Linked DNA regions of Homo sapiens. The protein of the gene in region 2 interacts with the protein of the main gene of each other region in a pairwise test. Each region holds a gene or a part of one and is shown on either strand. Other genes may lie near its edges.

The links. Proteins that work in one complex are often made in the same cells at the same time.
Region 1: the proteins of HLCS (region 2) and DDX52 interact in a two-hybrid assay, tested with the Homo sapiens proteins (one large-scale study listed by BioGRID and IntAct).

Annotation. Positions count from the first base shown.
Region 1 is NC_000017.11:37,629,947-37,633,446, forward strand, and holds part of DDX52 (probable ATP-dependent RNA helicase DDX52), read right to left. Parts: intron 3,473-3,500; coding exon 3,342-3,472; intron 2,353-3,341; coding exon 2,167-2,352; intron 228-2,166; coding exon 84-227; exon of another isoform or gene 1-83.
Region 2 is NC_000021.9:36,938,434-36,943,889, forward strand, and holds part of HLCS (biotin--protein ligase), read right to left. Parts: intron 562-5,456; coding exon 399-561; intron 1-398. UniProt on the Homo sapiens protein: Biotin--protein ligase catalyzing the biotinylation of the 4 biotin-dependent carboxylases acetyl-CoA-carboxylase, pyruvate carboxylase, propionyl-CoA carboxylase, and methylcrotonyl-CoA carboxylase.

The DNA of each region.
Region 1 (3,500 bases), on a different chromosome or scaffold from region 2:
TAAGATCTTTTTATTACCTTCAAATAAGAAAGATCACTGAAGTAAAAACCAATCGCATACTCTTCAAAAGCTACAAGTCATACCTGGCTGGCAAGTTCTCGTGTTGGTGATATAATCAGGGCTCTGAAGCCTTTATTTGCGGGTTGTTTCAGCTGCATTAAAATAGGAATGCTAAAAGCTAATGTTTTTCCAGATCCAGTTGGAGCAGAAGCCAGAAGTTCCCGACCCTAAAAACATAGGGTATATTAAATACTACAAAGAAAGTACATAAATTTTTCAGAGCCTGGTCAAATAACGCTACCAGCCATAGAAAAAAACAAATACAATTTTACATAATGAATCTAATCTTTCAAGTCATATCTGCTTTCCTAACATCATCCATCCATGCCACCATCACCCCAACAAAGTTTCTGAGCATTGCCCTTAAATTCCCTTTGAATGAGTGTAAAGAATACGGGTAACTAAAACCCAAAGATAATCCATAACCTAAGTTATATCCATTATTTCAATTTTTCTTTTCCACTAAACTATTGTCAAAATAAAATTATAAAACCAACTTTTTGTCCTGGTATCTGTATTGTTCAATCACTAGGGAAGGTTTTATTGAACAACAAAATGGCTGAAGAAATAAAAAATGGCAATGACCTGAGGGCAGAGTAATTTACAGGAGACAATTTTCAAAAACTCACTGTGTTTTTTTTTTTTTTTTTTTTGACACAGAGTCTCACTCTGTCACCCAGGCTGGAGTGCAGTGGCGAGATCTCGGCTCACTGCAACCTCCGCCTCCCGGGTTCAAGTGGTTCTTCTGCCTTGGCCTCCCGAGTAGCTGGGATTACAGGCACACGCCACCATGCCCAGCTAGTTTTTGTATTTTTAGTAGAGACAGGGTTTCACCATATTGGCCAGGCTGGTCTTGAACTCCTGACCTCGTTATCTGCCCGCCTCGGTCTCCCAAAGTGCTGGGATTAGAGGCGTGAGCCACCGCACCTGGCCCACTGTGATTTTTTAAGCTTTAAGCTAAAGCCATGACAGAAACAATCTTAAACAAAAATTAAAAGCAAATTTACTATAACATAAGTCAACAGCATCATTTAAATGTATGAATGTATTCTCATTTCATCTCTCAAAGAAAATGAAAAGGACTAGTATAGAGATGAAAAGGTATCTTATATCCTTTGGAAACCAGAACTGAAGGCCATCTCGGTTACATGGGGAAAAAACCCAACTCTTATTGCTACAGAAACAAACCTCAGAAAAACTTAACGTCCGAAAACCTAAGTTAATCCATACCTCTATCAACAAGTGACTGGATAACAAATTGTGGTATATTCATACAACATAATACTACTTGGTAACAAACTATTGCTCTATGTAATACAGAAGAATCTCAAAGCATTACGCAAAGTGAAAGAAACCAGAAATAAAAGATTAATGTGTGATTCCACTCATATAAAACTCTAGAAGAGGCAAAAGGAATATACAGCAGTAGAAATCAGAATAGCAGTTGCCTCTGAGCAGGGGCAGGGTGAGGACTGAATGGAAAGGGCACAAGAAAATTGTCTGGGGTAATACATATGTTCTCTATCTTCACTGGAATAGTGGTTACACAGGGCATGCATTGCTGAAACTCACTAAACTGGGCACTTAAAAATCTATGCATTTTATTGTATGTAAAGTATACTTTAATAATAAAAAGTATTCGGAAAAATAAGTCAGTTTATGTACAAGAACTTTAGAAAGCATTTGTATTTCTGGAGTAGTTCCTGGGCATTATAAACTAAATAATGAATGTATGAATGAATAGAACATAATCCCCATTCTCCAAGGGGTTACACACTAGTAAAATGAAAAAGATAAATATGATTGGTGCGAATACAAAGTAGTTTAAAATGTAAAATAAATGTTGCAAGGAAAAGAACACACCAAATACCATGGAAGAACTGCAGTGTGGGGGAAAGGGTACTAGAAAAGGAAGAAGATCACATCTAGATGGAGTGATCAAGACAACTTTTATGGAGGCACAGGCATTTGATGAACCTTAAAAGGAAGTGAAGGATTTTAACAGGGGAGATAAGGTGGAAAGAAAGAGTTCAAGAAGAGAGGGAAGAGAATGAGCAAACACACAGAGGAAGGAATGTTACAGGCATTCTAGATCTTCATACTCACATGCAGCATAACTGGGATGGCTTGCATTTGGATTGGCGTAGGCATTTGGAAACCTGCATCTAGAATGTTCTGAAGTAGTCGAGAATTGATTTTATATTCCTGGTCAAGTTGCTGAAATGTAGCAATTGGGTCAGGAAGATCGGTTCCTTGGACGTGAATTTTGTGTTTATTCCGCAAGAAGTTTATCTGAAAAGTGAAGTAAAGAGGCCACCATGGATATGGCCAAATAAATACATTCTCAGATGTTATAAAGCAACATTAACAGTTTCTGGGATAACCTTTAGCAGCATATGAAACTTTTTGGTTAAATCCAAGAATCAAAACATCACAGATATTAGGTACATTTCATGCCCTTTCATAGAAAACCTTCATAAAATGTCTATGCTTTCTTCATATTAATGTGTTATTGTCATAGTCATAACTTCTAACCTTAAATAAACTTCTTAGAAGGCAGGCATTGAACCCATCTACTATTTTAATATGGTGGTTAACATACAAGTATCATTGCTTTTTGATGATTTACCCTAAAACTCTGATTATTAAAACTGAGTGCCAAAAAGTGGAGTCTAGTAGTGTTGATTTGGTTTGTTTCCCCATTCTCTGGACCAGAGACAGCCAAATTCTGGTTTCTGGGTTACTGAAGCATTGCCATAGTAATCCCTGAAGTGAGCTGAATACACCTCTCCATCAGGAATACGGCAGGTGTACAGCAGACACAAAAAAGGTATATTTGTTGTTTCTTCCATATCCTACTCCTCTTATTCCCAAGTCATAAAATACCTTTCTTAAGAATTCTAACCCTCTAATCTGTGTCAGAGGAAATCCTTCTAAACCGGTGAGCTCAACAGAGAAGAAAGGGAGCCAAATTTTGTTTGTTTATCGAAAGCAGTTACGAAATTTTAAAAATTTAATTCTAAACATACTATCAATCTTGAAACTTGAGCAGGTCAAGAATTTTATATATGTATCAGCAATTTAAACTTTAAAATGTTCACCCACAGCACAAATGCCTACTTTGCTTTAAGTTTTCATTAAAGTAAAATCTAAATGAATGTAATTAACCTTCTATCTTAACAAAACTATATTCACATTAACAACAGAATAACCCAAATCCAGCGAATAAGTCACTAGGTCAGAAAATATATATACTTTTGGCCCCAAAATATTTTTCTAACCTTTTCTTTTCTGAGATTCTCCAACTTTCCGGAAGTTAGTTTACTTTCTCTCTGAACTTTTTTGTCTTCAATCTTTGCTTCTACAGATGACATCCACTGTATAGTAGCACCTTCTTCTTGGGAAGCAATTTCTAAAATATATTTTTAAAAAGTAAAAGA
Region 2 (5,456 bases):
GAAACCAAGCATAGCCTTTATGTCATACCAGTAAGAGTGCTCAACAGTCCTTAAGCTAATAACTTATAGTGTCCCACTATGATAAAAACAGGGTCTCACTTTGTCACCCACATGGGAATGCAGTGGCGTGATCATGGCTCACTGTGGCCTCAACCTCCCAGCTCAAGTGATCCTCCCATCTCAGCCTCCCAAGTAGCCGGGACCACAGGCATGCACCACCACACCCAGCTAATTTTTTTGTTTGTTTGTTTTTTTGGAGATAGGGGTCTATGCTGCTCAGGCTGGTCTCGAACTCCTGGGCTCCAAGCGATCCTCCTGCCTCGGCCTTCCAAAGTGCTGGGATTACAGGCATGAGCCACTATGCCTGGCCAATAAAAACATTTTCTAAAGTTACTTACACACAATCTTTTGGGGTACCAGTCCATTATCCATGTGGAGTCTATCTTCCATGAACGCCACCCCCAGCTTGCTGAAGTTGTCCACACTTGCTTCAGCAATTAGCCGATAAGGATCCCCAGGTCTGCAAGCTAATGGCAAACAACAGTCTGACCACTTGACAATCTGAGAAAAAGCAGGAGAGGGAGGAGGTGGGAAAAGACAGGTTGAGATTTTTCTTCTCTAAAATAACCACATACTTTATTTTTCCCTTGAGGCTCCTACCACTAAATTACAGTCATTAATAACAAATTACTGGATATTACATTTTACTAATATCAGAGTTGTTTTGAATTCAGCATTCTCATCTCTACCTGACAACAGTGCTTACGAAACACTAAATATAACTCTCTCATTTAAAAGTAACTGAAGTCTCCACCTTTTTAAGGAATTAAAAGATAAAGGGACATTCCCCAGACACTGGAAAAACACCATGCTGCCCTTTAAAAACAGAGAAGAGGAGAGAACAAGAAGTCCACAATACCCAGTTACTTTCAATGTAACCTGTGGACCCGCTTTTCTCAAAGTGTGGTCCGAGACCAAGTGCAACTGACCTCCCAGGGAGCACATGAGACCTTCAGAGTCCCGAGCACAACTCCCTCCCTATCTGGTGCACTGGACTTTCTGGAGTTGAAGTCCAGGAATCAGGATTTAAAACATGCTTCCCCTGGGGTTCCTGCACTCGAACTGTGAGAACAATCCAAAAAGACTCTCCAGACAGTTCCTCCCTGTAAGGAGGTTCACGTTCCTACCACAAGGGGGACAGGGAGAAAGAGAGCAGGCAAAACACCCGGCTTAGCCTTCCAGTTCTTACTACAGAAGACCGTGACACTGGGGCCTGGAACACCCATGCTCTCTCTGAGGGTTCCCATGGAGAAGACAGCCTGTGAGGTGAAGAGCCCGGCGCTGCAGTCAGGGGTCTGAGGCCGAGTCAAAGGCAACTAATCATCACTGTCTGTCCTCGGGCAAGCTTCCGACCCTCACAGCATCCTAATTTGTAAAACAAGAATACTCTACTAAAAATACAAAAATTAGCCGGGCGTGGTGTCGCACACCTGTAGTCCCAGCTACTCGGGGGGCTGAGGCAGGAGAATCGCTTGAACCCAAGAGGCAGAGGTTGCAGTGAGCTGAGATCGTGCCACTGCACTCCAGCCTGGGTGACAGAGCAAGACTCCATCTCAAAAACATAAATAAATAAATATAATTTAAAGGTTGGTTGTGTTCATGAGATCAAAGAGTATACGTAATGCCCCCAGTAAAAAGCTTAGATTGACTGGAATAAAGTACTCAATTACCGACAGCTGCTTTTATTAGCTGTCACAAATGTGGCTTTAAAAGCAGCAGTGAGCAGCACAGTCTTTTTCTAAGATGCCATGAACGATTGCTCTACTTCCTAAAGATACCTTCTCAGGGACACACTGCCCCGAATTTCATAATTATAGATAAATAATTTTTTATTCCATTTTTATTTATTTGTATTTATTTATTTTTTGAGATGAGTACTCGCTCTATCACCCAGGCTGGTCTTGAACTCCTGGCCTTGAGTAATTCTCCCGCCTCAGCCTCCCGAGTAGCTGGGACAACAGGCTCGGGCCACCACACTGGGCTTGAATTCTATTTTAGATATTGGTGGGCTAGGATTTTAGAACTAACTCCTCCTAAAAACTATTTTTTAAATGCTAGATAAAATAAATGAATAAAGCATTACCTTAAAAGTCTGGAAGAACAGACTAGATAATAGTGAACTTCCAGGCCAAGTGTGGGATAAATCCTGAACCTACAGAGGAAAGGGGTATTCCTGCAAGACACGCCACTTCTGCCCCCAGGGTCCTTGCTCATCCAAGCAACTTGGGTTTCAAAAGTCATCGTCCAACTGGCATAAGCATAGACATATAGAGATATGGTTTGGCTGGGTCCCCACCCAAATTTCATCTCGAACTGTAATCCCCATGTGTCAAGGGACGGACCTGGTGGGAGGTGACAGGATCCTGGGGGCAGTTTCCCCCATGCTGTTCTCGTGATAGTGAGTTCTCATGAGATCTGATACTTTTGAAGTGTTTGGGCTGGGCGCGGTGGTTCATACCTGTAATCCCAGCATTTTGGGAGGCCAAGGTGGGCAAATCACCTGAGCTCAGGAGTTCATGACTAGCCTGGGCAACATGGTAAAACCCCGTCTCTACTAAAAACACAAAAATTAGCCAGGCGTTGTTGTGGGTGCCTATAATCCCAGCTATTCAGGAGGCTGAGGCAGGAGAATCGCTTAAACCCAGGAGTTGGAGGTTGCAGTAAGCCGAGATCATGCCATTGCACTCCAGCCTGGGTGAAAGAGCAAGACTCTGTCTCAATCAATCAATCAATAAAGTGTTTGGTAGTTTCCTCTCTGTCTCTGTCTCTCACCTGCCACCATGTAAGACATACCTTGCTTCCCCCTTTGCCTTCTGCCATGATGGTAAATTTCCTGAGGCTTCTCCAGCCATGAAGAACTGTGAGTCAATTAAACCTCTTTCCTTTAAAAATTACCCAGTCTTGGGCAGTTCTTTCTAGCAGTGTGAAAACAGACTAACACATATAGACCAAGAGAACAGAGCTGACAGTATAGAAATAAACAGATTCATGGACAACTGAATTTGGACAAGGGTGCCAAGACAACTCAATAAGGAAATAATAGTCTTTTCAACGAATGGTACTGGTACAACTACATACTGACGTGTAAAAGAATGAACATAGGCTGGGCATGGTGGCTCATGCCTGTAATCCCAACACTTTGGGAGGCCGAGGCAGGTAGACCACCAGGAGTTTGAGACCAGCCTGACCAACATGGTGAAACCCCATCTCTACTAAAAATACAAAAATTGGCTGGGCGCGGTGTCTCACGCCTGTAACCACAGCCCTTTGGGAGGCCAAGGCAGGTGGACTGCCTGAGGTCAGGAGCTCGAGACCAGCTTGGCCAACATAGTGAAACCTTGTCTCTACTAAAAAATACAAAAAATTAGCTGGGCGTGCTGGCGGGTGCCTGTAATCCCAGCTACTCAGGAGGCTAAGGCAGAAGAACCACTTGAACCCGGGAGGCAGAGGTTGCAGTGAGCCGAGATCGCACCATTGCACTCCAGCCTGGGCAATGAGAGCGAAACTGTCTCAAAAAAAAAAATACAAAATTTAGCTAGGTGGGAGCAGGCACCTGTAATCCCAGCTACTCAGGAGGCTGAAGCTAGGAGAATTGCTTCAACTCAGGAGGCAGAGGTTGCAGTGAGCCAACACTCCAGCCTGGCACTCCAGCCTGGGCACTCCAGCCTGGCGACAGTCTCAAAAAAAACCTATTAAACTTTAAAAGACTCAGATTTGCATTAAATTGATACAGAAAAAGAAAAAAACCACAGATAGAGAAGCGTTAAAGACCTCTTTTAGAAAAAGGAGAAACTGGCCAGGCTCGGAGGCTCACGCCTGCAATCCCACCTGAGAGGTGGAGGTTGTGGTGAGCTGAGATTGCGCCATTGCAGTCCAGCCTGGGCGACAGAGCAAGACTCCGTCTCAAAAAAAAAAAAAAAAAAAAAAAAAAAAAGAATGAGGATAAACCTCTTCCTCACATCATGCAAACCACGTACAAAAATTAACTCAAACTGGATCAAAGACCTCAATATAAGAGCTAAAACTACAAAATTCAGAGAAGGAAAACACAGGCATAAATTGTCATGACTTTTGATCAACCAATGACTTCTTAGATAAGACACCAAAAACAGAAGCAACAAAAGAAGAAATAGATAAATTGAACTTCATCAAACATTCTTGTGCTTCAAAAGATATCAAGAAAATGCAAAGACAACACAGAAAAATAGGAGAAAGTATTGGCAAATCATATAAGAACTCCTACAACTCAACAATAAAAAGACAATCCAATTTAAAAATGGGCAAAGGATGTAAGGCACCCGGCAAAGGCACCTGTAGTCCCAGCTACTAGGGAGGCTGAGGCAGGAGAATGGCGTGAACCCCGGAGGCAGAGCTTGCAGTGAGCCAAGATTGCACCACTGCACGCCAGCCTGGGCGACAGAGCGAGACTCCATCTTAAAAAAAAAAAGAAAGAAAAGAAAATATACAAACGCCCAATAAGCACAAGAAACACTGCTCAACATCAGTCACGAAGGAAATGCATCTCAAAACCACAGTGAGACACAAAGTCATACCCACTAGGATGGCTGGAATCAAAAAAGATACCAACAAGGACAAGGAAAAACTGGAACTCTAATACACTGCTGGTAGAAATTAAGGTGCTGCAGCTGCCTTGGAAGACTTTGGGAGTTCCTCAAAGAGTTAAACATAGAGTTACCATATGATCTAGTAATTCTACTCCCCAGTATATACCTAAGATAACTGGACCTGAACATACGAACACATCTAGATTAGGCTCAGAGGATCTTCCCAAAGGCAAGCCCCAGAGGCCTTCACAAAAGAAACAAACTACGTTCACTGAGAAACAACTGGAAGATCTGAACTTGTTCAATAAGAACGTATACCCAAACCCCAGCCTTCAGAAAGATATGGTCTCCAAAATGGAAATAGATCCAAAAGTACTGTAGGTTTGGCTCAAAAACCTTGGAGCAAAACTCAAGAAAGCCAAATGCAAGCATATTTGGCAAAAACAAGAAGCTCAACAACAGCAAATATCTGAGAATGAGGCTGGGTGCGGTGGCTCACTCCTGTAAATCCCAGCACTTTGCGGGGCTGAGGCAGAAGGATCAGGAATTCAAGACCAACCTGGGCAACATGGCAAAACCCTGTCTCTATGAAAAACTACAAAAAATAGCCAGGAGCCAGGTGTGTTGATGGGCACCTGTAGTCCCCGCTACTCAGGAGGCTGAGGTGGGATGATCGCTTGAGCCTGGGAAGTTGAGGCTGCAGTGAGCTGTGATCATGCCACTACACTCCAGCCTGGGCAACAGAGTGAGACCCTGTCTAAAAAAAAAAAAAAAATCTGAGGGTAGACTCAAGACCAATCCTTCTCAGGGAAATATGGACACACTACCCAC